Regions from separate parts of the Homo sapiens genome. Here region 1 is linked to region 2. Evidence: fine-mapped expression QTL. A gene starts in region 2. The other region holds a variant in brackets. All regions are shown on one strand. Distances are from middle to middle.

What was found.
Region 1: its variant is fine-mapped to the expression of UBXN6 in prefrontal cortex (ROSMAP, PIP 0.95).

The regions. Positions count from the first base shown.
Region 1 is chr19:4,394,755-4,410,778 of GRCh38, reverse strand. SH3GL1 (SH3 domain containing GRB2 like 1, endophilin A2) reads left to right here and starts at 10,232. Exons shown (of 10, transcript NM_003025.4): 1 at 10,232-10,455. The coding sequence starts at 10,411. It overlaps CHAF1A (chromatin assembly factor 1 subunit A), which reads right to left and starts at 8,139. Exons shown (of 15, transcript NM_005483.3): 1 at 7,965-8,139; 2 at 4,817-4,867; 3 at 1,020-1,876. The coding sequence starts at 8,016. RefSeq lists enhancers at 648-1,459, 1,460-2,271, 6,986-7,681, 7,682-8,379, 10,042-10,871 and 1 more and silencers at 7,892-8,171, 10,134-10,643, 10,704-10,753. The variant T/C (reference allele first, on the strand shown) is at 7,759.
Region 2 is chr19:4,451,059-4,467,082 of GRCh38, reverse strand. UBXN6 (UBX domain protein 6) reads left to right here and starts at 9,289. Exons shown (of 11, transcript NM_025241.3): 1 at 9,289-9,468; 2 at 12,990-13,153; 3 at 13,561-13,625; 4 at 14,591-14,719. The coding sequence starts at 9,386. RefSeq lists enhancers at 9,028-9,227, 13,054-13,753 and silencers at 9,338-9,387, 9,418-9,487.

The sequences.
Region 1 (16,024 bases), 56 kb after region 2:
CCTCAGCTCAAGTGATCCTCCTGCCTCAGTTTCCCAGGTGGCTGGGACTACAGGCATGTGCCACCATGCCTGGATAACTTTTAAAAATTTTTTTGCAGGGCTGGGTGCAGTGGCTCATGCCTATAATTCCAGCACTTTGGGAGGCCAAGACGGGCAGATTACTTGAGGTCAGAAATTCAAGACCAGCCTGGCCAAGATAGTGAAACCCTGTCTCTACTAAAAATATAAAAATTAGCCAAGTGTGGTGGTGCGCACCTGTAATCCCAGCTATCAGGGATGCTGAGGCAGGAGAATCGCTTGAACCTGGGAGGTGGAGGTTGCAGTGAGCCGAGATCACGCCACTGAACTCCAGCCTGGGTGATAGAGTGACTCTGTCAAAAAAAAAAAAAAAAGTAATTTTTTTTCATAGAGATGGTGTCTATGTTGCCCAGGTTGGTTTTGAAGTGATCTTCAAGCGATCCTCCCACCTCGGCCTCTCAAAGTGCTGGGATGACAGGCATGAGCCACTGTGCCTGGCCCCAGGTAAGGTTTTTAAGATGGCTGGCTGTGCTGACCCTACAGAATTCCCCAAGTCATGCTTCCTGCCGTCTCACTGCCACTTCAGTGCTCAGTGTCTTTGCAGCCCCGTCCCTACATTTCTATGCTTAGACAGGAAGGGCACAGAGAAAGCTGGACCTCGAATCTGAAGTGAGGGGTTACAGCACCAGCTCAGATCCTAATTCCCTAAAACGGCTAAGCTATCACTGATTAGATGTGAACAACGAAGGCAAAACAGCAGGGTGTTATTCACACAGTACACCAGGTACACTGTTGATGAATTAAGTCCCAGGGGCATCACAACGAATGCAGAACTGAACACTGTGAGTTTTGATACCAGGAAGAACTCCACGTCGAGTCCCAGGACCCAGCCCGTGGCCCCGCTCACTCTGCCACAAAACACCTGGGTGACCCAGTGGAGACTGACAGCGCTCTGAGATCCGTGAGCACTGATGTGCAGGGACTCCATGGGAGATACTCACTCTGCGGAGGGGCGTGGAGGTGGGGAAGGGACTGGTACTGCTGTGCTGCTTTGGGGGAGCAGGCGGCCCCTCGGGCGAGCTGGTGGAAGAGGGAGAGCTCAGGGACGAATGGCTGAGTACAGAGTCTTCTTCGGGGAAAGATTCCAGCACCTCACTCTCAGGGGTCATGTTCTTGCCTTGGGGTGTGGCTGGAAGGGACTTGATTTGCGGTGGTCTCACAGCCAAGATGTCCTGCAAGACCACCATAGGCACCTTCCCTTTGAACAGGATGCCCCCAGCTTCACTCCAACTGTCCTGCTCCTTTCTGGGGCACATTCTCGGGCCACTCGTCAGCTCCGGGCAGCTCCGTGGCGAACATTCCTGGGAGTCGCCTCTCCTCCCTGCACCTCCACAGCCAACACCCTCCTCCTCTGTTTTGCAAGGAATGTCTGAAAGGGTCTCTCCAGGAAATGCCAACTTGTCGTTCTGAATGGCCTTCAACAACCCCTGCTGATCCCCAGTGTCTTCTCGCTGGCCATTTATTGCCTCCCTGGAGGGAGAGGCTTCAGAATTTAGTTTATTGTGGTCCACAAGACTGTCTGGCTGCTCATTCGAGTCCTCTGTCAAATCAATGATGACTGTGCTCTGGCCAATACTGGTTTCGATTCTATTTCTTAAAAAGTTATCTAAGGGACCCTTCCCGTTGACAAGTTTCGGTCTAAAGTCTATGTCAGAACCCACATGACAGTTGTTTTCCAAGGTGTCCAAAGAGGCCTCTAAATCGGGGCTTTTACTTTGCACAGAAGTACCCTGATCGTCTGACATGTCATCGGCTTTCCCCTTTGGGACAAGATTCAGGCGCTTAAACGGCAGACGGGCTGAAACAAAGACAGAAAGCCATCTCTAGTGAACGTTTAAAGTTACAACCACTCATGAGCTTGAAAATTACTGATTTGTTGGGACATGGGGGTGGGAGATAATTTTAAAGTTTAAAAAGGGACTATCTGGGCCGGGTGTGGTGGCTCATGCCTGTAATCCCAGCACTTTGGGGAGGCCGAGGCAAGCAGATCACAAGGTCAGGAGTTTGAGACCAGCCAGACCAAAATGGTGAAACCCCGTCTTTTCTAAAACTACAAAAATTAGCCAGGCCATGGTGGCACACGCCTGTAATACCAGTTACTGAGGAGGCTGAGGTAGGAGAATCGCTTGAACCTGGGAGGCAGAGGTTGAAGTGAGCTGAGATCCCAACACTGCACTGTAGCCTGGGCGACAGAGACAGACTCCCTCTCAAAAAAAAAAAAAAAAAAAAAAAAAAAAAAGGCCGGGTGCGGGAGGCCAAGGCAGGCGGATCACAAGGTCAGGAGATCGAGACCATCCTGGCTAACACGGTGAAACCCCGTCTCTACTAAAAGTACAAAAAATTAGCCGGGTGAGGTGGCGGGCGCCTGCATTCCCAGCTACTCGGGAGACTGAGGCAGGAGAATGGTGTGAACCCGGGGGGCGGAGCCTGCAGTGAGCTGAGATCACGCCACTGCACTCCAGCCTGGGCGACCTGAGCGAAACTCTCAAAAGAAAAAAAAAAAAAAAAGACGGGGCAGGGGCTATCTGAAGCCAGGTACACTGACTTACATCTATAATCCCAGCACTTCGGGAGGCTGAGGCAGGAGGATCGCTTGAGCCCAGGAGGTAGAGGCTGCAGTGAGCTGTGGTGGTGCAACTACTCTGCAGCCTGGGCAAAAGGGACCTCGTCTCAAAAAAAAAGAGGGGGTGGGGGGTGCTATCTTTTCATTCTATCCTTTTCTAACATCCTAATTTTACTTATTTTTTTTTCTTTTGGAGACAGTCTTGCTCGTCACCCATGTTGGAGTGCAATGGCGCCACCTCAGCTCACTGCAACCTCCACCTCCTGGGTTCAAGCTATTCTCCTGCCTCAGCTTCTCAAGTAGCTGGGATTACAGGCATGCACTACTACACCCAGCTAATTTTTGTATTTTTAGTAGAGACAGGGTTTCGCCATGTTGGCCAGGCTGGTCTCAAACTCCTGACCTCAGGTGATCTGCCCGCCTCCACCTCCCAAGGTGCTGGGACTACAGATGTGAGTCACCATGCCCCGCTTCAACATCCTAACTTAAAAAACAAAATCCTGACAAGCCTTTTAGCAGAGCCATCGCCAGAATTTCAAGAGACATTTGTTTATTTCAGATGCAGTTCATATTCCAAATTTATTTTTAATGGGTGAAAATCTCATTTGATAATAACTGCATCTGGTTCTCAAGTAGAAAATATAGACACATTTGTGGACAGGGTTTTTTTTTTTTCTCCTGGCCTCAGCACCCTAGGCTCTGTTAGGCTTTTCTCATCAATCAAACTGTTCTCCCAGAGTCTGCCAGGCTTCGGGCTGGTTAGGAGGAACACAGAAACACTTTGGAGAGTGAATTTCCCAAAGAACCTATGTTCACTTACTTCAATGCCATTGCATCTTTTATTAACTATTTCATCATGTAATAGACCAAATAAAAACCTGTTTTTTTTTGGGGGGGGTGTGGGGGGAGTTGTTTGTTTTGAGACAGAGTCTTGCTCTGTCACCAGGCTGGAGTGCAGTGGCGCACCCTTGGCTCACTGCAACCTCTTCCTTCCGGGTTCAAACAATTCTCTTGCCTCGGCCTCCTGAGTAGCTGGGACTACAGGTGCCCCCTACCATGCCCAGCTATTTTGTATTTTAGTAGAGACGGGGTTTCACCATGTTGGCCAGGCTGGTTTCAAACTCCTGAGCTCAGACAATCCGCCCACCTTAGCTTCCCAAAGTGCTAGGATTACAGGTGTGAGCCTAGCATCTGGCGTCCCCCTTTTTTTCAAGAGACAGAGTCTTCCTCTGTCATCCAGGCTGAAGAGCAGTGGTGTCATTATAATTCACCGCAGCCTTGAACTCCTGGACTCAAGCACTCCTCCCACCCCAGCCTCTCAAATAGCTGGTTTTACAGGTATGCAACACTGCACCCAGCCCAAGTTTGAAAAACCCAAAACTGTAGTTTCTAAAAATACAATCTGGGCCGGGTGCGGTGGCTCACACCTGTAATCCCAGCACTTTGAAAGGCTGAGGCAGGGGGATCACAAGGTCAGGAGATCGAGACCATCCCGGCCAACATGGTAAAACCCCATCTCTACTAAAAATAGAAAAATTAGCTGGGTGTGGTGGCACGCGCCTGTAATCCCAGCTACTTGGGAGGCTGAAGGAGGAGAATTGCTTGAACCCAGGAGGCGGAGGTTGCAGTGAGCAGAGATCGCACCACTGCACTCCAGCCTGGGCAACAGAATGAGACTCCGTCTCAAAAAAAAAAAAAAAAAAATTACAATCCAACCGCTCATCTGGCCCAAGGGTGAACACACTCCCCGTTTTATGCAGAAGGATTTGGGAGCATTTATCTTCCAGGACAACAGTGGTTCTCTGAGGGGGCAGTTCTACCTCCCAGGGGACATCAGCCACGTATAGAGATATTTTTGGTTGTTACGACTTGGAGGATGCACTTACTGGCATCCGGTGGGAAGAGGCCAGGGATGCTGCTACGCTCCCTACAACATACAGGAGAGCTCCCAGCTGCAAGTTACAAAACACCAATCGTGCATAAGTGGAGGCCTCGGGGTTTACTTGTGGGAACCCCACGAGACATTACTGTGTGAAAAGCATTTTCCCAGCTTCCTGGTCTGAAGAAGGACTGTTTCTCTCCCCTCTAGCTCCAGGCTTCCACTGAGGTCTCCAACAAGAGACAAGGAAGACTATAAACTACGAACAACTCTTTAACCCATTTCCAAATAATTACCTTGTATTAACTTCTTAACTGGAAAAGCTGGTCTATCTTTGCAATCCATGGCTGCAAATAAAAGTGTCAAAGGGTAAACTGTTAAATTCTGCAAATAATCAAGTTAGCAAATACATATGTAGAGCCAATTATGTACAAGGTGGAGGCAATTCTGACCCCTCTGTCCTCGGGGGCCATTTGACACAGTCTAGAGATGTTTTTGGTTGTCATGATGCAGGGAGGGCTCAAAGGGATGCTATTCACATCCAGTGGGTAGAGGCCAGGGATTCTGCTAAATGTCCCACAATGCAATGCACAGCACACCACAATGAAGAATTATATGGGCCAAAAAAAAAAAATTTTTTTTTTTTTTTTGGAGACAGAGTCTCACTCTGTCGCCCAGGCTGGAGTGCAATGGCACAGTCTCAGCTCACTGCAACCTCCGCCTCCTGGGTTCAAGCGATTCTCCTGCCTCACTCTCTCAAGTAGCTGGGACTACAGGCGCATGCCACCACTCTCGGCTAATTTTTGTATTTTTAGCAGAGACGGGGTTTCACCATGTTAGCCAGAATGGTCTCGAACTCCTGACCTCGTGATCCACCCGCCTCAGCCTCCCAAAGTGCTGGCCACGGCGCTTGGCCTCAAAATGTTAATAGGTTGAGAAATCCTACCCTAGACACTGTCATGTCTTGTTTTATTTTCTTTGTGGCATTTAATCTGAAACTTTCGTGTTTATTACGTCTCTCTGGAAACAAAATGCCAACTCTATGACAGCAGAAAGACTTGTTCCATGCTGCACCTATGGTACCTGGTTAGGGTCTGGAATAAATCAGAAAGCCAACTAAGAGAGTAACCGGAACTGTTTCATGAAATGAAAGTGGAATGAGTAAAAGTAGGGAGGAGAGAAAACATCAGATTACCTATTTCATTCCCATGATCCCCAAACATCTTCCTCCAACCCAAGCCCCCATACCACCACCAAATCTGTAAAATCAGAAAAGGGATCCTTTTCTTTTTAAAGAGAATTCATGAAGGTACCACAATTTAAAGCACTTTGAGCTTGCCAGGCAGGAGCTGAAGTGCTGTCAAGAGAAGATAAGACAAAATATTTTCCTGCAAAAAAAATCTCAAGAAACCATCTAATAATATCAAAGCAGATGCAGCAGTGATCATAAATAGAAGCGAGTCTTTAGATAAATACCTTAAACAGAGTAAGTTTAGGAAGCTCACACTTACCAGGAGATCTGGCTTGGCAAAACCTAGTTTAGTTATTTTGGTTAATCTACGTATGTTTTGTAAGCATTACATAAAAGTGAGTACTTTTTAAAAGCAGACTGGGGCTTCCTAAAAAACTCCATCGTCCATACATGAAACCACCCCTCACCCACCGCCCCAAGCTTAGTGAATAAGAAAAGGTACTGAGAAAATTCATGTTTCCTTTCTAGCCACTTCAAAGAAATAAAGACAGTATCATTCTCAAGTGTCCACTTACCAAAAGCCATGGATTTCTACCCCCTAACTGAAGGATATGATTTTTAGTCACTTAACTTTATTTTCGAGACAATCACAAAAATCTATTTGTGTGGCTTTGAGTCACTAGCTTTGGTGCAAGTGGAACAGAAACAACCTCATTAAAAACAGGACCCACCCTCATTAAAAAATCTTGTATATAAAACGGGACACTCCCAATCCAGAGATCCAAAGATACACACGATTAACACATATGTGTGTATAAAGTTACTAACTGCTCTTTATTCTGCGATTACATCCTTTCTAATTTTATTTGGCACTAAAATATACTTTCCTTTCATGATAGCATGGTCCTAGCGAGTAGCGATTTTTTTTTTTAAAGTTAAATATCCTGGCCAGGCATGGTGGCTCATGCCTGTAATCCCAGCATTTTGGGAGGCCAATGCAGGTGGATTACCTGAGGTCAGAAGTTCGAGACCAGCCTGCCCAACATGGTGAAACCCCGTCTCTACTAAAAAATACAAAAATTAGCCAGGCATGGTGGTGCAGGCCTGTAATCCCAGCTACTTGGGAGGCTGAGGCAGAAGAATCGCTTGAACCAGAGAGGCAGAGGTTGGGCAACAGAGCAAGACTCAGTCTCAAAATAAATAAATAAATAAAGTTAAACATCCTGACTTAAAACATCACAGCTCCACGACAGTACCAACTTTATATTAATTTTATGTCTCCGGGAAATCCCACAGGCTAGAAGGAACTACAGCCATGATTTTCAGCCAAGGCGGAATCTGCCCCATAGGGGACACAGGGCAATGGTATTTCTGGCTGTTACTAAGGCATGGTGAGAGGGGCTGCTACTGGCCTGCAAAAGGCGGAGGCCAGGGATGATGCTTAACACCCTGCAGTGCCGTGCCCAGGACGGCAACAAATATCAACACTGCTGAGGCTGAGAAACTGGACTGGCGTCCATTCTAGCCCTTCATTCGTTCACGTTATTTACTGAGCACCTACTATGTGCCAAAGCGTAATGCCAAGTGCTGCCAAAGCGTTATGTAATGCAGAGTCCAGCAAGGGAGAGGGACAGTCTGGTCTTCCTTGGTTCACCCTCCCACGTTTCAGGAGGCCTGTGGTGGGCTCCAAAGACCCCATTCCAAGGCACACGGAGGAGGAAGTCACGGTGCATATCAGGAAGGAGCAAGAACTCGGGAGTCCCACCCTCCTGGCCATCTCTACCATCTGGGCCTCTTCTTACCCGGGCTTACCCCGACCCTCAGCGGCATCGGTACTGGTCCCCGAGCCCGTGCGACCTTGGGCCTCAGTTTCCCCACCCGCTGCAAGGTCCAACATGGTCAAGGGACACAAACGCATCCAGTAACCTGCAGGGCAAGCCCTTTCGCTTCCCTGGGCCTCAGTTTCCCCTCTCGGCCCCTCCGACCCACCGCCCCAGAGAGTCCTGGAGGGACGAACTGACGCAAAAGCGCCGGAAACAAACAATA[T/C]GGTCGCGGCTACAACAATAACGTCAACAAGGGTGCCCTTGGGGACGCCAGGCCCTCGCTGGGGATGAGAAGGCCCCAGGGGGTGAACGCCCGGCCCGCAGGACCAGGCTTGGCGCCCGGAGGCCCGTCCGCCTCCCATCGCCGCCTCGGCCCGTCCAGGCCGCGCGCCGCGCCCCCCCTTCCCCTCGGCGCGGGCCCGAACCGACCTGTGGCGGCTCCCCTGGCGCCGGGCGCCCCGCACTCCAGCTCCTCCAGCATCGCCCCGGCGGCAGCTCGACCTCCTCTCAGGCGGCGGAGGCGCGGGCTCCCCTCAGGCGGCCGCTGCTCTTCGCCCTCCCGCCCGCGCCGCTGCTGCCGCCGCGGCCGCCGCGCTCGTATTTGGCGGGAACCGCGGCGACCCCCGCAGTCCGCGCGCCAATTGGGCGAGCCCGGGTCACGTGACGGCCCGCCTCGGGAATTGAGGGGCGCCGGGGGCATCCTCGCGAGATCCGTGACTTCCATTCCTCCCAGGGCTCGCCCATTGACATATCCGCGAGGGACTGGGCTTCCCCTCGGAGGCCTGTCATTGGCTGGGAGGAGCTGCCCTGCGATTGGAGGAAGGAGGTGTCAAGCTCATTGCTCTGCGCTGCGACTGGCTGATCGCGTGGGATAGTCCCTAAGAGGAGGGAGGCCCAGGCTCTTACGTCACCAGAACATTTTACGCAAGGCGCAGATGACAACTTGAAAGTGGGATTTAGATGAGGAACCTGGAGTTTTGAGTTTATCCTAATGGGACATCGGCTAAATATAGCAACAGCAATTAAAATTATAAATTGCTTTCTACAAGAACAATAAAACGAAGTCTGGGGAGCGCTTCGGAAGTATTTGACATTCAGTAAATAACATGTAGAATGAGTGAACGAAATGGACGAAATGGATCGTTTCTGGTTTAATCCTCAGGAAATTGGCACATGCTGTTTTCTCTGCCTAGAACAATCTTTTCGCAGCTCTTTTCCTGGCTAATTTATACTTTTCAGATCTTAGATCGTCACCCCAGGAAGCCTTTTCTTCCCCAACCCTGACAATATCAAGTGCCTACAACACTGTTCTTTTCCTTAAAGCAATTACAGCTGTGTCTATTTATTAGTTTGTTATTTGACTAATGAATTAATTTCTGCCTTTTGTCATTAGTTCTGGCGAGGGTAGGACTCATTCCTCACTGGAACCCCAGGACCTGTTAGTAACTGATCATATTTACCAGGTCAATAAATGTTTGAGTGAATGTATAAATATTTGATTGAACTGTGTAGATCAAGCAGATTAAAAGCCTCACACAAAACAGAGAACTTCAGTGTCAGCCTGTGAGTGTAGAAACAGGTTTTCTTTCTTTCTTTCTTCCTTCCTTCCTTCCTTCCTTCCTTCCTTCCTTCCTTTCTTTCTTTCTTTTTTCTTGAGACGGAGTCCCTAGTAGCTGGGACCACAGGCGCCCGCCACCACGTCCGGCTAATTTTTTCTATTTTTTAGTAGAGACAGGGTTTCACCGTGTTAGCCAGGATGGTCTCAATCTCCTGACCTCGTGATCCGCCCACCTAGGCCTCCCAAAGTGCTGGGATTACAGGCGTGAGCCACCGCCCCTGGCCCTGAATTGCATTCTAGAAGCATCTTTCTGGCTGCCATGACAAGGAAGAATTGGAGGGGAGGACTGGTGGAAAGTATGGTCAAGGCATGAAGACAGACCTAGATGTCTAGATGTGTCACGTGGGCAACTGAATGGATGAACACAGGACAGAGAGAGAGAGGAAGAGAGGTGGCCGGGCACGGTGGCTCATACCTGTGAGACCAGTACTTTGGGAGGCTGGATTTGGTGGGGGGGTTGGGGGTTGGATCACCTGAGGTCAGGAGTTCGAGACCAGCCTGGCCAACATGGCGAAACACTGTCTCTACTAAAAATACAAAAATTAGCCTAGCATGGTGGTGCGCGCCTGTAATCTCAGCTACTTGGGAGGCTGAGGCAGGAGAATCGCTTGAACCCGGGAGGCGGAGGTTGCAGTGAGCCGAGATCACGCCACTGCACTCCAGCCTGGGAGACAAAGCAAGACTCCGTCTCAAAAAAAAAATAAATAAATAAATAAAAATGGGAGGGGGCTGAACACTTAGACGAACTGGATTTAGCTAAGATGAGTAAACAGGAATCTGAAGAATCGTAAGCAGGGGCCCCTTCTACTTCCCAACCTCCCTGGCCAGGTTTAAACTAAGCGCGTTTTCCAAGACGTTAGGGTCACCTCCACGACTCCAGGGGGCGCTGCAACTGCTACGGCCCCTCTAGGCTCGCCCCGCTCAACTCACTGACAGAGGCGGCCTCTCCCGCGGTAGACAATGTGCACGTGCGCTCTTCAGCCGGCAGAGGGCGCGCGTGCGCAGACGGGGCCGGGGGCGCGCGCGGGGGCCGGGGGCGCGCGCGGGGGCCGGCACCGGAAGCGTGCGGTTGCCATGTAATATCCTGGCCGCGCGGGCGCGCGAGCGGCTGAGGCGGCGCCGGGGCGGGCGCGGAGCTGGCAAGCGGGTGGCGGAGGCGGCGCCGACGGGGACTGCTGAGGCGCGCAGAGGGTCGGCGGCGCCCGGGAGCCTGTCGCTGGCGCGGTCCGGGCGGGAGGCTCGGCGGCGGGCGGCAGCATGTCGGTGGCGGGGCTGAAGAAGCAGTTCTACAAGGCGAGCCAGGTGAGCGCAGGCCCAGGCGGGAGCCGAGTACCGGGCCCCGGGCTGCCCGGATGAGGGAGCCAGGCCCGACCTGGCCCGGGAGGGGGCCGGGGGGACCGAGGTGGGGACGTTGGCGCGTGTCCCCTGCCAGGTGGGAAGACCAAGGGACGGACGGGGGCGACGAGGTGGCCCAGGCCCTGCCCGCCATGCGGGCTCCAGAAGCGGGGACAGAGCCCCTGGGAGGAGGGGAGAGGCACCCTGGGCTGCCCAGGGACGCGGACCTCTCCCCTCCTTCTCTCCGCTGCAAAGGCGGGGTGCGGGGAGAGAAGGGGAAGAGAGGAGTCCCGAGGCTGTCGACACAGGACTCTTGCCAGATAACCCAGAGCCAGGGAAAAGTTGCGTCTAGAGCAGTTACGTTCAAAATCCTCTGGATGGGCAAGGTACAAAGTTGAAAAGGTAGAGGAAGAAGTCAGTTTCCCCTCTCTGCTCCTCGGGCAGCCAGCCCTTCTCCCCAGAGACAAGCGACTGTCATCGACTCCGTATGTCCCTTTCCTAAGATACGTGTGTGCCTTTCCTTTAAAAACACGTACCCTGTGATAGCATATGCCACAGAATCCTGTGTGCTGTGTTTTTCATTGCTTGGAGATCACACTGGAGCGGGATTTCTCCCCCTCCGTCGGCACTGTTGACATCTGGGGCTGGATTGTTCTCCGTGGTGGGGCCGTCCTGGGCACTGCGGGGTGCTGAGCAGCGCCCCTGGCCTCCACCCACTCCGGGCCAGGAGCACCCCCAAGTCGTGACAACCAAAAATATCTTGAGACATCACCGTGTGTCCCCTTAGAATCAGTCCTCCTTCCCTCCCTTCGTTCCTTCCTTCCTTCTTTCCTTCCTTCCTCCCTCCCTCCTTGCCTCTCTCCCTCCCTCCCTTCTCTTCTTTCCTTCCTCCCTTCCTTTCCTGTCCCCCAGGACTACTGCTCTAGACCATACTCCACACTTCTTGGATTTTTTTTTTTTTTTTTTTTTTTGAGAGGGAGTCATGCTCTGTCGCCCCAGCTGGAGGGCAGTGGTGCAATCTCGGCTCACTGCAAGCTCCGCCTCCTGTGTTCAAGCAATTCTCCTGCCTCAGCCTCCCCAGTAGCTGGGACTACAGGCATGCGCCACCACGCCCGGCTACTTTTTGTAATTTTAGCAGAGACAGGGTTTCTCCATGTGCCCCAGGGTGGTCTCGAACTCCTGGCCTCAAGTAATCCGCCTGCTTCGGCTTCCCAACATGCTGGGATTATCGACGTAAGCCACCTGCCTGGCCTACTTGGCTCTTTTTAATGGGTACATTGTATTTCATTCCATGACATATACCATAATTTATTTAACCAGTTGTCAGTTGATAGATATCTCTATTGTTTACCGGAATTTTCTGTTACCATTACTACAATAAATAGCCAGTGAATATCTTTGCTCACCAGTGGGATTAGTTTTATAGGATGAATTCCCAGAAGTAGAATGCTGCATCCCAGCCTAAGTGCATTTGATATGGACAGATAAAGGGTTTTTTTTGGAAACTCCAGGGCCCACTGCTCATGAATCTGGTGAAAGCTGTGGATCCACTCTCCAGAAAACTGGGCACATTTAAAATTTTCACTTTGCAATTTCGAATGCAAGAAGCCTCAAATTTGGCCGGGCGCGGTGGCTCATGCCTGGAATCCCAGCAGTTTGGGAGGCCGAGGCGGGCGGATCACTTGAAGCCAGGAGTTTGAGAGCAGCCTGGGCAACATGGCAAAACCCCATCTCTACTAACAATACAAAAATTTTGTATTTTTGCCTGTAACCCCAGCTACTAAGGAGGGTGAGACAGGAGAATCTCTTGAATCCGGCAGGCAGAGGTTGCAGTGAGCCGAGATTGCACCACTGCACTCCAGCCTGGGTGACAGAGCGAGACTCCGTCTTGAAAAAAAAAAAAAGACAAGAAGCCTCAGATTGTTGAATCCTATTGGTCCGTGTACTGCAGGGTGAGGTTGTGTGGAATTTGTGTAGATAGAGTCCACCGAGGAATGAGCAATGATCTTAGCAAATGCTTGGGCCAAGGTGGCAAACAGGGTTCTCTGCCCACAGTTCGGAGATGCCCAGTGGGAGCAAAGAGAAACGAGTCCCCAGTAACACCCAGCAGGTACCTTTGCCCCTGGAAAGAAAAAAGTAAGGACCCTGCCAGGTGCTGTGGCTCATGCCTGTAATCCCAGCACTTTGAAGGCTGAGGCAGGGGTTCCCTTGAGTTCAGGAGTTCAAGACCAGCCTGGGCGATATAGGGAGATCCCATCTCTACAAAATATGAAAAAGTTAGCCAGGTGTGGTGATGTGCACCTGCAGTCCCAGCTACTTGGGAGGCTGAGGCAGGAGGACCACTTGAGCCCAGCAGTTCAAGGCTGCAGTGAACTATGATCGTGCCACTGCACTTCAGCCTGGGCAGCAAAGTGAGACCCTGTCTCAAAAAATAAATAAAAAAAGTAACAACCCTAGTGGTTGTTTAGGGATATAGATACTTAGGGTCTATCTCTACACCCCAGATGATGGTTAAACCCTGGAGAAAGATTTAATCCAGACGAATTTTAGAGTTGTCACTGAGAACAGTCCCACCCCCTTGCCCCAGCACTTTGAAATCAGATGGCCTGGCCCTGGGTTAGACCTTGCCCAGCAGGCGTCAGACCTTCACCTGCTTGGTTAGAGCACCATAGAGTACTGCTCCCTAGCAGGAAAGATGTCCTCAGAGGTCTTGGAGGAATTCCTGGGCCACTTTGTTCCCTGCTATAGACAGGTCTCTGGAAGCCACCACCCCCACTCCCAGCGATCAGGGCCTGTGCCCATATTGTCCTGAGCTGACACCCTCTTTAGAGGAATGAACCAGGCCTCTTGTGCCGGCCACCAGGACTTTGTCTCTCTCAAGGGAAGCAGGATGACCTGCGTTCAGATCTGTGAATGGCGCCTTGAAGCCTGGAAAGGACAGTGTGGTGTTAGCTGGGCTTAGGATTGCCTATTTCCACATCCCGAGGCCTAGTCCCAAAGCACAATGGCCACAGCCCACCCTCGGGGCTGTCGTCTTGGCCTCCTGGTCAATTCTGTCCTGAGTCGTGCTCTTAGAAGTCACCCTGGCTGCGTTCCATGCTCTTCTGTGATCATTGCCATGGTTCCCTCTGACATCTCAGCTGTTATCTGGACGTATCCGACTATTTGTGTCTCTTTTTTTGTTTTTAGTCTAATAACAACTCTTTCACCCTCTGCTGTGCCTGTTGGAAAGTGACATCTCTCGGGATCTCTCATTACGTAGTGATACAAACATTTATTGAGTTCTCACCATGTGAGCAGGCAGTATGCTTTATACCAGTAGGTCTCAGCTGGTCTTGCTTATCCGGTCTAAGGGTAAAAAACATTCCCCCTTTTACACAAAAGGATTAGGGGACATTTATCTTCCTGTAAAACAGGGCCAGTTCTGTCCTCCAGGGGACATTGACAATGTCTGGGACCTTTTTGGTTGTCACAGCTTGGTGCGGTGCTGCTGGCTACTAGTAGGTAGACGATATTGCTGGACATCCTCCGGTGCCCAGGGCAGCATCTCCCCACTGCCCCCAAGAATTACCTGGCCCCAAATGTCAATAGTACCAAAATTTGAGAAACCCTGCTTGAAGATTTGGAAAAAAAATGAGGATAATTATACCAAAACAAAGGAACAAAAAAATCCCCACTGAGCCATTCTTACGATTTTCCTAGTTTGGCCAGGTGTGGTGGCTCACGCCTTTAATCCCAGCAGTTTGGGAAGCACTCCAGCCTGGTGGATGAGAGCGAGACTTCGTCTCAAAAAAAAAAAAAGTAAAATATAAAATAAAACAAAGATTTTCCTAGTTTGCTAAACACAGATAGCCACATGTGTAGTTTGTTTTTGTTTGTTTGTTTGTTTTTGAGACGGAGCTTCTCTCTTGTTGCCCAGGCTGGAGTACAATGGCACGATCTCGGCTCACTGCAACCTCCGCCTCCTCTGTTCAAGCAATTCTCCTGCCTCAGCCTCCCGAGTAGCTGCGATTACAGGCACCCACCACCATGCCCCGCTAATTTTTTTGTATTTTTAGTAGAGACGGGGTTTCACCATGTTGGCCAGGCTGGTCTCGAACTCTTGACCTCGGGTGATCTACCTGCCTCAGTCTCCCAAAGTGCTGAGATTACAGGCATGAGCCATGGCACCCCGCCCCACAGGTAGATATTTACATAAAACTCAGCATCCAGACCCTAAGGTCGAGCCCACCCTCAAGTCTTTAGGAAAATTCGAGTGTCTTTCAGTATCTGGGCTTCTTTTTTAGGGGGGAGCTAGATCCACCATAAACATTTTATGTGTATATGTACACCGTTTATCATATACATATTGTGACAACTGTATATATATATATATATTTTGAGACAGAGTCTTGCTCTGTCACCCAGGCTGGAGTGCAGTGGCGCAATCTTGGCTTACTGAGACCAACCTCCGCCTCCCGGGTTCAAGCGATTCTCTTGCCTCAGCCTCCTGAGTAGCTGGGATTACAGGTGCGCCACCACACCCGGCTAATTTTTTTTGTATTTTTAGTAGAGACAGGGTTTCACCATGTTGGTCAGGCTGGTGTTGAACTCCTGACCTCATGATCTGCCCGCCTCAGCCTCCCAAAGTGCTGGGATTACAGGTGTGAGCCACCGTGCCTGGCCTAAACAACTTGTATGTATACATACACTGTTTATCATATATACGTATTGTGGCAACCATATGTATGAATAAGCCTTCAAAAGGTGAGCACCTGTATTTCCTGGTAATTGACAATGTCAGTTTTGTGTGATGTAGTCTCTATGGAATTTCCCGTACATATGATGACAGAAACAAAGACTGAAACATGGTTCACAGAGAAACACAGAACATACATGACTCTCAGAATAACCATGTCTGCTGCTGTGTAGGGAACTCTTTGAGAGGAAACACTTTCACTGCTGGCCTCAAATGCCACTATCCACTTAGGTTCTTCAGTGTGAACCTTTAATTCAAAAGTACCTTCCAGCTGATCACGAGGAACCTTTATCGCTTGCACCTGAGGAGGTCAGGGCTGCAGGGAGCCCTGATTGTAGCACTGCACTCCAGCCTGGGAGACAGAGCCAGACCCTGTCTCCAAAAAAAAACACCATTTACAGTGACTTAGAAAAGGGACAGTTTCCAGTGCTACACACAATGGTTCCATACACAGCTTAAAGGTTTCCAGTTCTTTGCTGGAACTTGATTTAATAGTTGAGAGCCACAGGCATCGGGGCTCCTGAAGGAGGGGCACGCGCCCATCAGCGCTGTCAGCCGGGGATGGCGCAGACCCCTTCCTTGGCTTGGCAATGTCGGAGACAGTTGTTATCGCAACTTTGGGAGAGAATGCTCATGGCATCGAGGGGATAGGGGCCAGGGATGGTTGCCAAGCATCCTACAATGCATAGGACAGCTTCCCCCCGCTGCAAAGGAAGAATTCTCCAGCCCTACGTCAGTAGAGTTGAGCTTAAGAAACCCTGCTTTAAACCAGGCTCTAGACTTCCAAGGGTTCTTACG
Region 2 (16,024 bases):
ATGTATATATATAATATATGTATATATAATATATATGTGTATGTATAATATATATGTATATATATGTGTGTATATATTATATATGTGTATATATAATATATATATATAATATATGTGTGTATATATTATATATGTGTGTGTATATATATATATATAAACAGACGGGGCATGGTGGCTCACACCTATAATCCCAATACTTTGGGAGGCCAAGGCCAGCAGATCACGAGGTCAGGAGTTCAAGATCAGCCTGACCAACATGGTGAAACCCTATCTCTACTAAAAATACAAAAAAATTAGCTGGGCGTGGTGGCGCACGCTGTAATCCCAGCTACTCAGGAGGCTGAGGCGGGAGAATCACTTGAACCTGGGAGGCGGAAGTTGCAGTGAGCCGAGATCGTGCCACTGCACTCCAGCCTGGGCTACAGAGTGAGACTCCATCTCAAAAAATAAATAAAGCCTTTTTTTTTTTTTTTTGAAACAGTCTCACTCTGTTGCCCAGGCTGGAGTGCAGTGGCACATCTCGGCGCACTGCAAGCTCCGCCTCCCATGTTCACGCTATTCTCCCGTCTTAGCCTCCCAACTAGCTGGGACTAAAGGCGCCCGCCACCACGCCCGGCTAATTTTTTCTATTTTTTAGTAGAGACGGGGTTTTACCGTGTTAGCCAAGATGGTCTCGATCTCCTGACCTTCTGATCTGCCCGCCTTGGCCTCCCAAAGTGCTGGGATTACAGATGTGAGCCACTGCACCTGGCCAAAGCCATTTTTTTTTTTAAAAAGATCCTTTAGCCTGCTACATTGAGAAGGGCTATAGTTAGAATTTCCAGTTAAAATTCAGGATGTCAAGTTACATCTGAAGAGCAGATACACATCACATGATTTTGTTTGTTTTAGAGACAGCGTCTCACTTATGTCACCCAAGGTGATCTAGAACATCAGAGTTCAAGAGATCCTCACATTTCAGTCTCCCAAATTACTGGGATTACAGGCATGAGCCACAACATCTGGCTGAATGATTTCTTAGTATAAATATCTCCCATGCATTTTATTTATTTATTTATTTATTTATTTATTTTGAGACAGAGTCTCGTACTGTCGCCGAGGCTGGAGTGCAGTGGCGCAATCTCAGCTCACTGCAAGCTCCGCCTCCCAGGTTCACACCATTCTCCTGCCTCAGCCTCCCAAGTAGCTGGGACTACAGGCACCACGCCTGGCTAATTTTTTTTTTTTTTTGTATTTTTAGTAGAGTCGGGGTTTCACCGTGTTCGCCAGGATGGTCTCGAACTCCTGACCTCGTGATCTGCCCACCTCGGCCTCCCAACGTGCTGGGATTACAGGCGTGAGCCACCACACCCAGCTTATTTATTTTTTTGAGACAGAGTCTTGCTCTGTTACCAGGCTGGAGTGCAGTGGCGCGATTTTGGCTCATTGCAACCTCCACTCCTGGGTTCAAGCGATTCCCGTGCTTCAGCCTCCCGAGTAGGTGGGACTACAGTGTGCGCCACCAAGCACAGCTAATTTTTTGTGTTTTAGTAGAGATGGGGTTTCACCCTGTTGGCCTCTCTGGATGGTCTCAATCTCCTGACCTCATGATCCACCTGCCTCGGCCTCCCAAAGTGCTGGATTACAGGCGTGAGCCACCGCGCCTGGCCAAGAATTTTTTTTTTTTTGAGATAGGATCTTGCTGTCCTGACCAGGCTGGAGTGCAGTGACATGATCTCAGCTCACTACAGCCTCTACACTTCGGGCTCAAGTGATCCCCCTGCCTCAGCCTCCTGAGTAGCTTGGACTACAGATATGTGCCAGCACACCTGGTTAATTTTTAATTTCTTATAAAGATGGGATCCCACTTTGTTACCCAGACTGGTCTCAAACTCCTGAGCTCAGGCAGCCCTCCTGCCTCGACCTCTCAAAGTGCTGGGATTACAGGTATGAACCACCTTGCCCGGCCCCATGCAATTTTTTTTTTTTTTTTTTTTTTTTTTTGAGAAACAGTCTCACTATGTCACCCAGACTGGAGTGCAGTGGTGTAATCTTGGCTCACTACAGGCTTGACCTCCTGAGCTCAAGGAATCTTCCTGCCTCAGTCCCCCAAGTGGCTGGGACTAAAGGTGTGTGCCACTATGGCAGGCTAATTTTTTTTTTTTTTTTTTTTTGTAGAGATGGGATTTCACCATGTTGCCAAGGCTGGTGCAATATCTTTTTTTTCCTTTTTTTTTTTTTTTGAGACGGAGTCTCTGTCACCCAGGCTGGAGTGCTGTGACACAATCTTGGCTCACTGCAATCTCAACCTCCTGGGTTCAAGGGTTTCTCCTGCCTCAGCCTCCCGAGTAGCTGGGATTACAGGCACGTGCCACCACACCTGGCAAATTTTTGTATTTTTGGTAGAGTCGGGGTTTCATCATCTTGGCCAGCCTGGTCTCGAATTGCTGGCCTCAAGTGATCCACCAGCCTCGGCCTCCCAAATTGCTGGGATTACAGGCATGAACCACCGTGCCCGGCCTGCAGTATCGTTTAAAAACTATTTGTTACACAGGCTGCAACCTTAAGACGATATCCTCAGTGAAATCAGCCAGACGTAAAAAGACAAGTACTGTCTTATATGTATCCACTCATAAGAGGTCCCTAGGGTTGTCAAATTCATAGAGACGAAAAGTAGACTAGAGGTTATCAGGGTTGGGGGTAGTTATTACTTAATTAGGCAGAATTTACGTTTCACTAGATGAAATGTAACGATTGCTGTAATGGTTGCACAACAATGCGAATGTACTTGAGGCCACCGAACTGTACACGTAAAAGTGGTTAATGGCTGGGCACGGTGGCTCACACCTGTAATCCCAGCACTTTGGGAGGCCGAGGCCGGCGGATCACGAGGTCGGGAGATCGAGAACATCCTGGCTAACATAGTGAAACCCCATCTCTACTAAAAATACAAAAAAAATTAGCCGGACGTGGTGGTGGACATCTGTAGTCCCAGCTACTCGGGAGGCTGAGGCAGGAGAATGGCGTGAACCCGGGAGGTAGAGCATGCAGTGAGCTGAGATTGCACCACTACACTCCAGCCTGGGTGACAGAGCAAGACTCTTTCTAAAAAAAAAAAAAAAAAAAAAAAATTGCGGGGCGCGGTGGCTCACACCTGCAATCCCAGCACTTTGGGAGGCCAAGGCAGGTGGATCAGGAGGTCAGGAGTTCTAGACCAGCCTGGCCAAGATGGTAAAACCCTGTCTCTGCTAAAAATGCAAATATTAGCTGGGCGTGGTGGCTGTAATCCTAGCTACTCGGGAGGCTGAGGCAAGAGAATCACTTAAACCCAGGAGGCGGAGGTTGCAATGGTTAAGCTAGGTGCAGTGACTCATGCCTGTAGTCCCGGCTACTTGGGAGGCTGAGGTGGGAGGATCACTTGAGCCTGGGAGTTCTGGGCTGCAGTGACCCATGATTGTGCCTGTGAATGGCCACTGTAGTTGTGCTCCAGCATGGGCAACATAGGAAGACCACATCTGTATAAAAAATTTTTGGGCCAGGCACGGTGGCTCACACCTGTAATCCCAGCACTTTGGGAGACCAAGGTGGGTGGATCACGAGGTCAGGAGTTCAAGACCAGCCTGGCCAACATGGTGAGACCTTGTCTCTACTAAAAATACAAAAATTAGCCGGGCGTGGTGGCGTGTGCCTGTAATCCCAGCTACTGAGGAGGCTGAGGCAGGGGAATCGCTTGAACCCAGGAGGCAGAGGTTGCAATGAGCTGAGATCACACCATTGCACTCCAGCCTGGGTGACAAGAGCAAAAACTCCGTCTCAAAAATAATAATAAGAAGAATAATTTAAAGTTCCAACAGCTTTACAATCAAACGCTGGGCGAGGTGGTTAACACCACTAATCCTGGTGATTTGGGAGGTTGAGGGGGATCACTTGAGACCAGGAGATCTATACCAGCCTGGGCAACCTAGCGAGACCCCATCAGTATAATACATATTTCATTTTTAAAATTTAAACAGTTATTTGTTTACTTTGAGTTTATCTTTTTTTTTTTTTTTTTTGAGACAGAGTCTCACTCTGTCACCCAGGCTGGAGTGCAGTGGCAGGATCTCGGCTCACTGCAAGCTCTGCCTCACGGGTTCACGCCATTCTCCTGCCTCAGCCTCCCGAGTAGCTGGGACTACAGGCGCCCACCACCACGCCCGGCTAATTTTTTGTATTTTTAGTAGAGATGGGGTTTCACCATGTTAGCCAGGATGGTCTCAATCTCCTGACCTCGTGATCCGCCCACCTTGGCCTCCCAAAGTGCTGGGATTACAGGTGTGAGCCACCACGCCCGGCCGAGTTTATCTTTTAATGGTTTTTTGTTTGTTTGTTTGTTTTTTGTTTTTTGTTTTGAGACGGAGTCTTGCTCTGTCGCCCAAGCTGGAGTGCAGTGGCGCGATCTCAGCTCACTGCAAGCGCCACCTCCCAGGTTCACGCTATTCTCCTGCCTCAGCCTCCCAAGTAGCTGGGACTACAGGCACCCACCACCACACCTGGCTAATTTTTTGTATTTTTAGTAGAGACGGGGTTACACCATGTTAGCCAGGATGGTCTCGATCTCCTCCTGCCTCAGCCTCCCAAGCAGCTGAAGCTGCAGGTGCGCACCACCATGCCTCACTAATTTTTGGTTTGTTTGTTTTTTGAGACAGAGTCTCACAAACCAGAATGCAGTGGCATGATCTCAGCTCACTGCAACCTCTGCCTCCCAGGTTCAAGCAATTCTCATGCCTCAGCCTCCCAAGTAGCTGGGATTACAGGGAGGCACAACCAGCACTGATTTTTTTTTTTTTTTTTTTTGGTAGAGACAAGGGTTCGCCATGTTGCCCAGGGTGTTATTTTTATTTTATTTATTATTATTATTATTTTTTGAGATGGAGGCTTGCTCTGTTGCCCAGGCTGGAGTGCAGTGGCATGATCTTGGCTCACTGTGACCTCTGCCTCCCGGGTTCAAGCGATTCTCTGCCTCAGCCTCCTGAGTAGCTGGGATTACAGGTGCTGCCACCACCCCTAGCTAATTTTTGTATTTTATTTTTAGCAGAGACAAGGTTTCATCATGTTGGCCAGGCTGGTCTTGAACTCCTGACCTTGTGATCCACCCACCTCAGACTCCCAAAGTACTGGGATTATAGGGGTGAGCCACTGTGCCTGGCCTGTTATTTTTATTTTTTAGTAGAAACAAGGTCTCACTATGTTACCCATCCTGGTCTTGAACATCAGGGCTCAAGCAATCCTCCTCCCTCGGCCCCCCAGTGTTCTGGGATTACAGGCGTGAGCCACTGCGCAAGATTGAACAATTTTTAAAAAATTACCCGGAGGCCGGGTGCAGTGGCTCACGCCTGTAATCCCAGCACTTTGGGAGGCTGAAACAGGCGGATCACCTGAGGTCAGGAGTTCAAGACCAGCCTGACCAACATGGAGAAACCCTGTGTCTACTAAAAATACAAAAAAGTAGCCAGGCATGGTGGCGGGTGCCTGTAATCTCAACTACTCGGGAGGCTGAGGCAGGAGAATCCGAGAGATGGAGGTTGTGGTGAGCCGAGATCGCACCATTGCACTACAGCCTGGGCAACAAGAGCGAAATTCCTTCTCAAAAAAAAAAAAAAAAAAAAAATTAGCTGAGTGTGGTGGCACATGCCTGCAGTCCCAGCTTCTTGGGAAGCTGAGTGGGGAGGACTGCTTGAGCTCAGAAGTTCTAGGCTGCAGTGAGCCATGATTGTGCCACTGCACTCCAGCGTGGGGAAGAGAGTAAGACCCTGTCTAAAAAAAAAAAGAAAGCTGGGCATGGTGGCTCATGCCTGTAATCCCAGCACTTTGGGAGGCCGAGGCGGGCGGATCACGGGGTCAGGAGATCGAGACCATCTTGGCTAACACGGTGAAACCCCGTCTCTACTAAAAATACAAAAAATTAGCCGGGTGTGGTGGCGGGCGCCTGTAGTCCCAGCTAGTCGGGAGGCTGAGGCAGGAGAATGGTGTGAACCTGGGAGGTGGAGCTTGCAGTGAGCCAAGATTGTGCCACTGCACTGCAGCCTGGGCAACAGAGCGAGACTCCATCTCAAAAAAAAAAAAAAGAAAAGAAAAGAAAAGAAAAATAAATGTTGTCCTCCCAAAGTGCTGGAATTACTGGTGTGAGCCACCGACCGCTCCTGGCAGAAATGTTAAATTATTTAATCTCATAACCTCATCCGACATGAGGAAGATAGTCCAGGAGAGCGTCATGGTGGAAGAGGATTGAGTTAGGCAGAGGAAGAGAAGTCCCTTCTGGTAAAGGAGAATGCCTAGGCAAAGGCCCAGAGGTGAGCTGGAAATACTTCCAGGTAACTGAGGCAGAGGTGGAAAGGTGGGTGATAACAAGAAACGGGGTTTCTGAAACCCTCAGAATACTTAGAACCTGAAATAGAAATTTATTAGGGCCTATTAATGTTAGGATCTCCTTAGACCAGGCTGAGGAACCCCATAGGATTTTATTCTTGGAGAAGTGGGATGGGTCTCTGCCACTTTCCAGCTGTGTGACTTTGGCCCAGTGTTGTACCTTTATTTGAGTTATAGGGTATACAATTCCTTATTCACAACAATGAGCTGTAATTTTCTTTTCTTTTCTTTTTGAGACGGAGTCTTGCTCTGTTGCCAAGCTGGATTGCAGTGGCGCAGTCTCGGCTCACTGCAACCTCTGCTTCCCAAGTTCAGGTGATTCTCCTGCCTTAGCCTCCTGAGTAGCTGGGATTACAGGCATGAGCCACCGTGCCCGGCATACTGAGAACTTTCTAATCACATGATCACCCCTACAATCTATAGAGAGTGTTATTCTTATCCCCATTTCATAGATAGGAGACTGGAGATCAGAAAGATTGAAGTTTGGGTTGCACTGTATTCTTCTTTTATTTATTTATTTTTTTACTTTATTTATTTATTTTTGAGACAGAGTCTCGCTCTGTCGCCCAGGCTGGAGTGCAGTGGTGCAATCTCAGCTCACTGCAACCTCTGTCTCCTGCGTTCAAGTGATTCTGCTGCCTCAGCTTCTCAAGTAGCTGGGATTACTGGCACACACCACCACACCCGGCTGATTTTTGTATTTTTAATAGAGACGGGGTTTTGCTATGTTGGCCAGGTCGGTCTTGAACTTCTGACCTTAAGTGATCCACCCGCCTTGACCTCCCAAAGTGCTGGGATTACAGGTGTGAGCCACCGCACCTGGCCCAATTCTTTTCCTTTTTTTTTTTTTTTTGAAACGGAGTCTTGCTCTGTTGCCCAGGCTGGAGCACAGTGGCATGATCTCGGCTCACTGTAAGCTCTGCCTCCTGGGTTCACGCCATTCTCCTGCCTCAGCCTCCCAAGTAGCTGGGACTACAGGCGCCCGCCACCAAGGCTGGCTAATTTTTTTAAAAATTATTTTCAGTAAAGACAGGGTTTCACCGTATTAGCCGGGATGGTCTCAATCTCCTGACCTCGTGATCCACCCGCCTCGGCCTTCCAAAGGGCTGGGATTACAGGCATGAGCCACCGTGCCTGGCCTTTTTTTCTTTTTTTAATAAGACAGGGTCTGGCTCTGTTGCCCAGGCTGGAGTGCAGTGGCGTGATCCTAGCTTACTGCAGCCTCCAATTCCTGGGCTAAAGCAATCCTCCCACCTTGGCCTCCCAAAATGTTGGGACTGCAGGCCTGAGCCACCCGTCCAACCCATGATATTTCAATTTCAGTCTTGGGGTGGGCTGTTTCCTCACCTGGAGGCTTCTCCTCCATCAGTCTCTGTGTATCTCATTCCAACTCCTTCTTTTTTGAGGCAGAGTCTCCCTCTGTTGCCCAGGCTGAAGTGCAATGGCGAGATCTCGGCTCACTGCAACCTCCACCTGCCGGGTTCAAGCGATTCTCCTGCCTCAGCCTCCCGAGTAGCTGGGATTACCGGTGCCCATAGAGACAGGCTTTCACCATGTTGGCCAGGCTGGTCTCAAACTCCTGACCTCAAGTGATCCGCCGGCCTCGGCCTCCCAAAGTGCTGGGATTAGAGGCATGAGCCACCACGTCTGACCCCCAACTCCCATTTTTTGAGGCTTGTTTTAACTGTCACTTTGTGTATCTTCTTTGTGGATTGCACAGACCAAAGTACGCCACTATTAACTGGTGTCCACCAAAGTGGATCCCCAATCCCCAGGTCCCAATTGGGTGCATTGGGTGCATCCTCTTTTTTTTTTTTTTTTTTTTTTTTTGAGACGGAGTCTCGCTCTGTCGCCCAGGCTGGAGTGCAGTGGTGAGATCTCGGCTCACTGCAAGCTCCGCCTCGCGGGTTCACGCCATTCTCCTGCCTCAGCCTCCCGAGTAGCTGTGAGTACAGACGCCTGCCACCATGCCCGGCTAATTTTTTGTATTTTTAGTAGAGACGGGGTATCACCGTGTTAGCCAGGATGGTCTCGATCTCCTGACCTTGTGATCCGCCCGCTTCGGCCTCCCAAAGTGCTGGGATTACAGGCATGAGCCACCGCGCCCGGCCCAGGTGCATCCTCTTAAACAGCTCCTACCTAGGGTACGTGGTGATGGTGGCGGGGGGGTGCTTCAGGCACCAAAACAGGCCAGATCGTGGGGGCCTCCAATACCCAACATTGAATTGGGATTTTATCACGTAAGCTCTGGGGAGACAGAGAAGGTTGGAATTTTTTTTGTTTTGCTTGAGACAGGGTCTCTCTCTGTCGCCCAGGCTGGAATGCAGTGGCTTGATCACAGCTCACTGCAGCCTCGACCTCTTGGGTTCAAGCGATCCTCCCGCCTCTGCCTCCCAAGTAGCTGAGAGGCGCGCGCCACCACCCTCGGCTAATTTATTTTATTTTATTTTTTTTTTTTTTATAGAGACGAGGTTTTGCCATGTTGCCAGGCTGGTCTCCAACTTCTGGGATCAAGCAATCCTTCCGCTTGAGCCTCCAAAGTGCTGTGATTGCAGGCGTGAGCCACCGCGCCTAGTTTAGGTTGAGCAGCGAAAGGGATAGGGCCCAGTGCTTTCTCTGCGAGGTTCAGTTGGCCTGTCCCTGTCCTATCACCGTTTGTCACCGTTTGGGGAGCGCCACGGAATGCCCTGTCTCCAATCGAGAGGTGCACTCGTCGCCCTGGCAACGGAGTCCGGAAGAACCACAGAGACGCGGCTCCAGCGTACAGAGCGGCCGCCCTGGGCCAGCAAGGCACCGAGCGCTAGAGAGGCACGTCTAGTCGATTGTCACGTGGCAGGCCAGGGGAAGGCGGGACTTCCGGCGGCGAGGTAAATTTTTTTTTTTTTTTTTTTTTTTTTTTTAATTTTCTTCCGGTGGCTGGTCTCCGGCGGCCCCGTCCCCGACTGGGCCCCGTGCCCCCCCGCCCCCGCGGCCCCCCGCCGCCGGGCCAGCCGCCACCATGAAGAAATTCTTTCAGGAGTTCAAGGCCGACATCAAGTTCAAGAGCGCGGGACCCGGTCAGAAGCTCAAAGAGTCCGTGGGGTGCGTGAGGAACGCAGGGGCTTGAGGCCCTGCGGGGCGGGGACGGCCGGGGAGAGAGATCTGGGGCCTTGGGCGGCTCGGGAGATCGGAGAGGATGAGGGGCTGGGAGCGGCACGCGAGGGTCAGGGGAGGGGGAGAGGCGCCGGGGGCGGACGAAGTCGGGCCGAGGGTGGGCGTCAGGGGGAGGGGAGAGAGATCTGGGGGCGGGGCAGGAGGGGGCGGGTATGACCCGGGGGCGCGGCGGGGGAGGCGAGGGGAGGGGAACTAGCGCAGGGGGCGGGGCGGGAGGGGAGGTCTCGGGGGCGGGGCCGCAGGAGGGTCCGATGCAGTGGCGGGGGATTAGGGCGACGGGGCTGTAGGCAGTTGGGGGTCAGTGGAACGACCTTTGGGGAAAAACGGGATCATGAGTCCTGAGCCGGGTGGTGAGGGAGAGCTCTGTCTGGGGACCCGGCTGGCCGAAGAGGCCGGGATGATTTGGGGCAATCTAGGTGACCATGGATGGGAGCTGAGCTTGGAGGAGGACGCACAGCTGTGGGGTGGGGTGGTGAAGAGTTGTTTTGAGGTATCCATGGGAAGAGGGGTTCTGGATTTGGTATCTGGAGCACGTGGGAGGCTGATGGGAGACTAGAAAGAGTCTGGAAGGCCAGGGAGGCCGGGGTGGGCAGCGTCGTCAGTGACCTGGGATGTCCTGGCGAATTGAGAGGGAGGGGCTGAGGAAGGTGTGTGAGGAGAGTGGAGGTGAGGGATTCTGACAGATGGACTCTTACCCGGGAGGGGCCTGAGAGGAGAAGACGGGTGAGACAGACGCGTCTTAGCAGGCTGGGAGAAAGAGCTTCTCTGCGAGGCTTCTCTGCCACGTCACTGTGCCAAGTGGATTATGGAAGTGGGAGAGGAGGGGAAAGGAGATAGATGCCGGGCAGGCTTCCGGATTGTCTAGGGAGGACTTGGAGAGAAGGGCCTGAGCAGGGCTGAGCCAGCTGGGAGGGCCGGGGAAGAAGTGGAGCTAGGGAAGGTGCAAGGCTGAGGGCTGTTGGGTTGAGAAAAGGGAAACTGGAGAGCTGGGGCCGCTGCAGGGAGCTGGCTGGCCAGAGGGTGGTGGGGACTGATGGAGAGGGACTGAGGAAGTCAGCCAGGCAGCCAGGACACGGGTCTGTAAGCAATAGTGGAAGGGATTGTGAGGGAGTGGGGGCTGGGAGAGGCAGGGAGGTGGCAGGAAGTGGGGGTCAGGAATCACGGGGCAGTGGGGTGGTGATGGAGGTAGGGGCATAGTGAGGACGTCAGGGTTCCTGGGGGAGAGCAGGAGAGCAAAGGCTGAGTGAGGGAGGGAGAGGGGTCAGGGAGAGAAGGGGGCAAATCGGGGGAGCCCTTCATTGATTCAACCAATAGTGGGTGGGGGGTGCTGGGGCCACTGGGACTGGGCATGATAGGAAGGATGCAGGGTATCGGGGTGATGGCTGGATCAGCCCAGAGCCTGGGCGGAGAGGGGAAGGTTGGAGGGGAAGGTTGGGAAAGGAAGCGGTGCGGAGGTCCCTTGTGGAGCGAGACTGCATATCCAGGGTGTGTGGGGTGGGTGGGCACCAAGTCCTGTTTTAGGCTGCAGTGGTGGACAGGAGAAGGCCTCTGCTGTCCCAGGGCTCACCTTCTAGAGGGAGCCGATGGACAAATAAACCAACAGACCTTGGATGAGCGCTCAGGCGATGAGTGCTTGGATGAGTGCCCAGGGCCTCCAAGGAGGGTGAGCAGGGGCCGTCAGGTGGTTTGGGAAGGCCTCTCCCAGGACACAGTGAGACTCAGCTGTGGGGAAATCTGCCCCTCCTTCTCTCCCTGCGGCAGCTCTAGCCCTTTCCAGACCCCCATCCTCCTCCCACTCCCCCGGAGAACATTCTGGGCAGAAGGTGCAGACAGTGCAGGGGCCTGCAGTGGGGAGCAGCTGGGGTGTGGGAAGAACTGCGGGGAGCCCAGGGGAGACAGGCCACGGGAGGGCAGTGGGCCAGGCTGGGAAGGGCTCTCTGGCCAAGGGAAGCTTTAGGATTTTGCAGTGGGAGGGCGTTGTGCAGTGGAGTGATGCTGACGCTCCCTGGCTGAGGTTCCAGAAGGGTCCCTGTGGCTGCCCAGGGGGGCAGGGTCCATGGCTGGTTGGGGTGAGGTGCCCTGGGAAATGGCATTTTGTTGGAAAGACCCAGATATCGGATGAGGCCGGGGTGGGTCTTCATGAGTCATCTCCTCTTCCACCCAAGATGCTCAGCTGTGGGAGGACTAGATAGGCAGGGGTGGGACGAGGAGGGAGGGCTGCCCGGGTATGTAAGCAGAGCCAGAGGAGTATAGGGCTTGAACTGAGAGCCTGGCCTCCCAGAAGGTTTTAATAGACCTACGGCACAGAAATTGACACAGCCCGTAAGTTCATGGGAGGGGCCTGAGAGGAGACGGGTGAGACAGACGCGTCCGAGCAGGTTGGGAGAAAGGGCTTCTCTGCGAGGCTTCTCTGCCAGGTCACTGTGCCACGTGGGTTACGGAACTCTCCTTGGTGTAGGGCTCAACAGGGTGGAGCCACGAGTCCATGAGCTCTTCGTACTTGCACAGCCCTAGGCCTGGCATGGAGTGGCCAGGGCGAGGCTGGTTCTGCTGTCCGCTCTCCCCAGGGTCCCGCCACGAGGGTGGCGTGGCATGGGGCACATCGCCCGGACTTCCTGTCCCTCTTGGGTTTAGGAATGGGATGGTGAGGCCTCCCTGGCAGCTTGTTAGGAGGAGTAAACCAAGCGAGCCGACCAGCTCCCAGCAGGGTCCTGGCACACAGTAGGTGCTCAGCAAACGAAGCTGTGACCTGAGGGTGGAGAGTCTTATGGCAGGGAGGGAGGGAGGATGTGACACCCCTTGAGTCTCCTCAATTCCTGAGGATGCGGGCTGGGTGCTGTGGCTCATGCCTATAATCCCAGCAGTTTGGGAGGCCACGGTGGGAGGATCATTTGAGGCAAAAGTTCGAGACCAGCCTGAGCTACATAGCGAGACCCTGTCTCGATAGAAAAATTAGCCAGGCATGATGATGCTTGCCTCTAAGTCCCAGCGACTTGGGAGGCTGAGGCGGGAGGATTCCTTGAGCCTGGGAGCTCAGGATTGCAGTAAGCCATGATCGTGCCACTATACTCCAGCCTTGGTGAGAGAGCAAGACCCTGTCTCAAAAAGAAAAAAAGCACTGAGGATGTCAAGGTGCCTTCACCTCAGGAGGGGTGCTGTCACCCCATTTTACAGATGAGGACGCTGAGGGCCAGTGGGGGCAGGACTTGCCCGATGGTGCAGAGCTGAGTGGAACCAGCATCTCCTTCCTCCAGGGGCTCTTCCGCCTGCAGTAGAACCATCTGGTGGCTGCAGGTGGCCCCTGGGAACCAGGTGTCCTGGCCCACATAGGCAGGGACACGTCTGGCTGATGGTGCTGGGGAGGGGCAGAAGCTCCTCTGTGTGACTGCACGTCAGCTTTGCCGGCCACCTCGGGAGGATACACTCACTCTCCCTCGGTCTGTTCCCAGGGAAAAGGCCCACAAAGAGAAGCCCAACCAGCCAGCCCCCAGGCCGCCCCGCCAGGGACCCACCAATGAGGCACAGATGGCAGCCGCTGCCGCCCTAGCCCGGCTGGAGCAGAAGCAGTCCCGGGCCTGGGGCCCCACATCGCAGGACACCATCCGAAACCAGGGTGAGATATGGCCCTCCTCGGGCCCAGGTTGGGGCTGTTTGAGGTTCTCGGCCCTGGTGCCTGGCCCTGGATGCAGAAGTCACATGAGCAACCGTGGGGGTGTGAGGGTCACCCTTGGGAGCGGCTCATCAAGGGCAGGTGCTGGGGGAAGGGCAGCTTCCTGGGGAGGGGGTGGGAGCAGAGACTTGGAGCAGAAACGGGCTGCCCAGGCAGTGGGGTGCTTGCTCAGGCTGAGGGGTGGCTGCACAGCAAGTCCTGCAGGGGACCTCCAGCCTGACCTCCAGCAGAAGCAGGCTGGGGCGGTGTGCGTGGCCCCCAGGCCCACCCCGGGAATGAGGGGGCTTGGGCCAGGACAGCGGCGTGCTCACTATCCCGTCTCTGCCTCTCTTTCTTGGGCTGCCTTCCAGTGAGAAAGGAACTTCAAGCCGAAGCCACCGTCAGCGGGAGCCCCGAGGCCCCAGGGACCAACGTGGTAAGAACAGCCACTGGTGGCACTGTCCCATGCCAAGGGGTGGGGACAGCTTGACTGTGTCACGGGGGAGATGTGGCCTCTGCCCTTGGGGCTCAAGGGCTGTTGGAAAACCTTGCCTTGCAAGGTGGACACAGGTTGTGGTGGAACACGGTGTTGTCTGGGACCTTCGGGGCTCGGCAGCTGAGGATGCCGGCTCAGGCCTGGAGAAGTGGGCCTCAGGTACACGAGCCCATCGCTCCCTCCCCTTAACCCCTTAAGGGCAGATGCAGTTACAGTTTCCACTATTCAAAAAGAGAACCGGGGTTGAGAGAGGTGAAACCAGCTGTCCTCTCTCCTACACCCCAGGACCAGCAAAGGCAGGACCAGAGCCAGTCTGTGGTTTCAGAGCCTGTCCCCTAGCACTGCCCAGTCCTGCCTGCCTTGGAGGTCAAGAGGCTCTGTGGAGACGGGTGGAATCAGGGAGGCCTTCCTCTAGGAGGTGGGCCTTCAGAGCTCCGCTGAAAGGAGTTCTAAGCAGCTTGACCCTCGAGGATTCAGTGAATTTTAGCACGCAGGGACCTTAGAGATGGCCTAGAAATGGAGGCCCAGAAGTCATGCCTTGTCCAGCGCACTGTGCCCGCAGACACCCACACAGAGCTCCTTCCTCAACAGCTTGGGGACAGGACCAGCAGGAACCCAGCTGCCATCTGCTGGGTGTTTCCTGCGTGTCAGAAGCTGCTCCGTACTTTCCGTTCCTTACCTCGTTTAGTTCTGAGCAGGCCCCACAGGGACATTTGACATACCAGGGAAAAGACTCGGGGATCCGGTCACTTGGCCAGGGTGTCTCCCACGGCCACCAGGTGGAAGGGACAGCATGGGGGCTGGAGATGTCTGGTTCTACGGGCCACACTCAGGACTGTGGTGCTCGGCGAGGGTCGGGGTGGCCTCTGTCCACGGTCCAGACTTGGACGCTTTCACCGCCCCAGGTATCTGAGCCCAGAGAGGAAGGCTCTGCCCACCTGGCTGTGCCTGGCGTGTACTTCACCTGTCCGCTCACTGGGGCCACCCTGAGGAAGGACCAGCGGGACGCCTGCATCAAGGAGGCCATTCTCTTGGTGAGTGGCACCCTGTGTGCTCCTGCCCCAACCTGTAGCTTCCTGTGCCTGAGCCACCCTCCATCGGAAGCCCAGGTGGTACAGATCCCTCCCAGAGTCCCCAGAGGCCACTGCTAGTAGTGAAGCCCCTCCTCTGATACCCCAAATCCAGGCACACCATTGTGTATGCATCTGTATCTCCTCTCTCCCAACTAGGTGTCTTTTTTTTTTTTTTTGAGATGGAGTCTCACTCTGACACCCAGGCTGGAGTGCAGTGGCGCATTCTCGGCTCACTACAACCTCCGCCTCCTGGATTCAAACGATTCTCGTGCCTCAGCCTCTCAAGTAGCTGGGATTACAGGCACCTGCCACCATGCCTGGCTAATTTTTGTATTTTTAGTAGAGATGGGGTTTCACCATGTTGGCCAGGCTGGTCTCGAACTTTTGCCTCAAGTGATCAACCCGCCTCAGCCTCCCAAAGTGCTAGGATTACAGACGTGAGCCACCACGCGTGGCCTGGTTGTTTTTCATAAAAGGTTAAGTATTATTTGCTTCAATACAGAAAGAACTTCCTACAAAATTAGCCAGGCATGGTGGCACATGCCTGTAATCCCAGCTACTCGGGAGGCTGAGGCAAGAGAATTGCTTGAATCCAGGAGGCAGAGGTTGTGGTGAGCCGAGATAGCGCCATTGCACTCCAACCTGGGCAACAAGAGCAAAACTCCATCTCAAAAAATAAAAACGTCCACAGCATTTTTTTCCAATACAGCAAGTCCTCACTTAACACCATCAATAGGTTCTCAGAAACTTCGGCTTTAGCCTGGGCAACATGGCAAAACCCTGTCTCTGCCAAAAACAAAAAAAAATAGCTGGGCATGGTGGCGTGCACCTGCAGTCCCTGCTACTCAGAAGGCTGAGGTGGGAGGATTGCTTCAGCCTGGGAGGTAGAGGCTGCAGTGAGCTGTAATCATGCCACTGCACACCAGCCTGGGTGACAAGTGAGACCCTTTCTCAGAAAATAGTAAGTGGCTGGGCGCGGTGGCTCTTGCCTGTAATTCCAGTGCTTTGGGAGGCTGAGGCAGGTGGATCACCTGAGGTCAGAAGTTCCAAGACCAGCCTGGTCAACATAGTGAAACCCCCTATCTACTAAATATACAAAAATTAGCCAGGCGTGGTGACAGGCGCCTGTAATCCCAGCTACTCAGGAGACTGAGGCAGGAGAATCGCTTGAACCTGGGAGGTGGAGGTTGCAGTGAGCCCAGATCACGCCATTGAGCTCCAGCGTGGACACTGGGTGACAAGAGCGAAACTTCATCTTAAAAACAA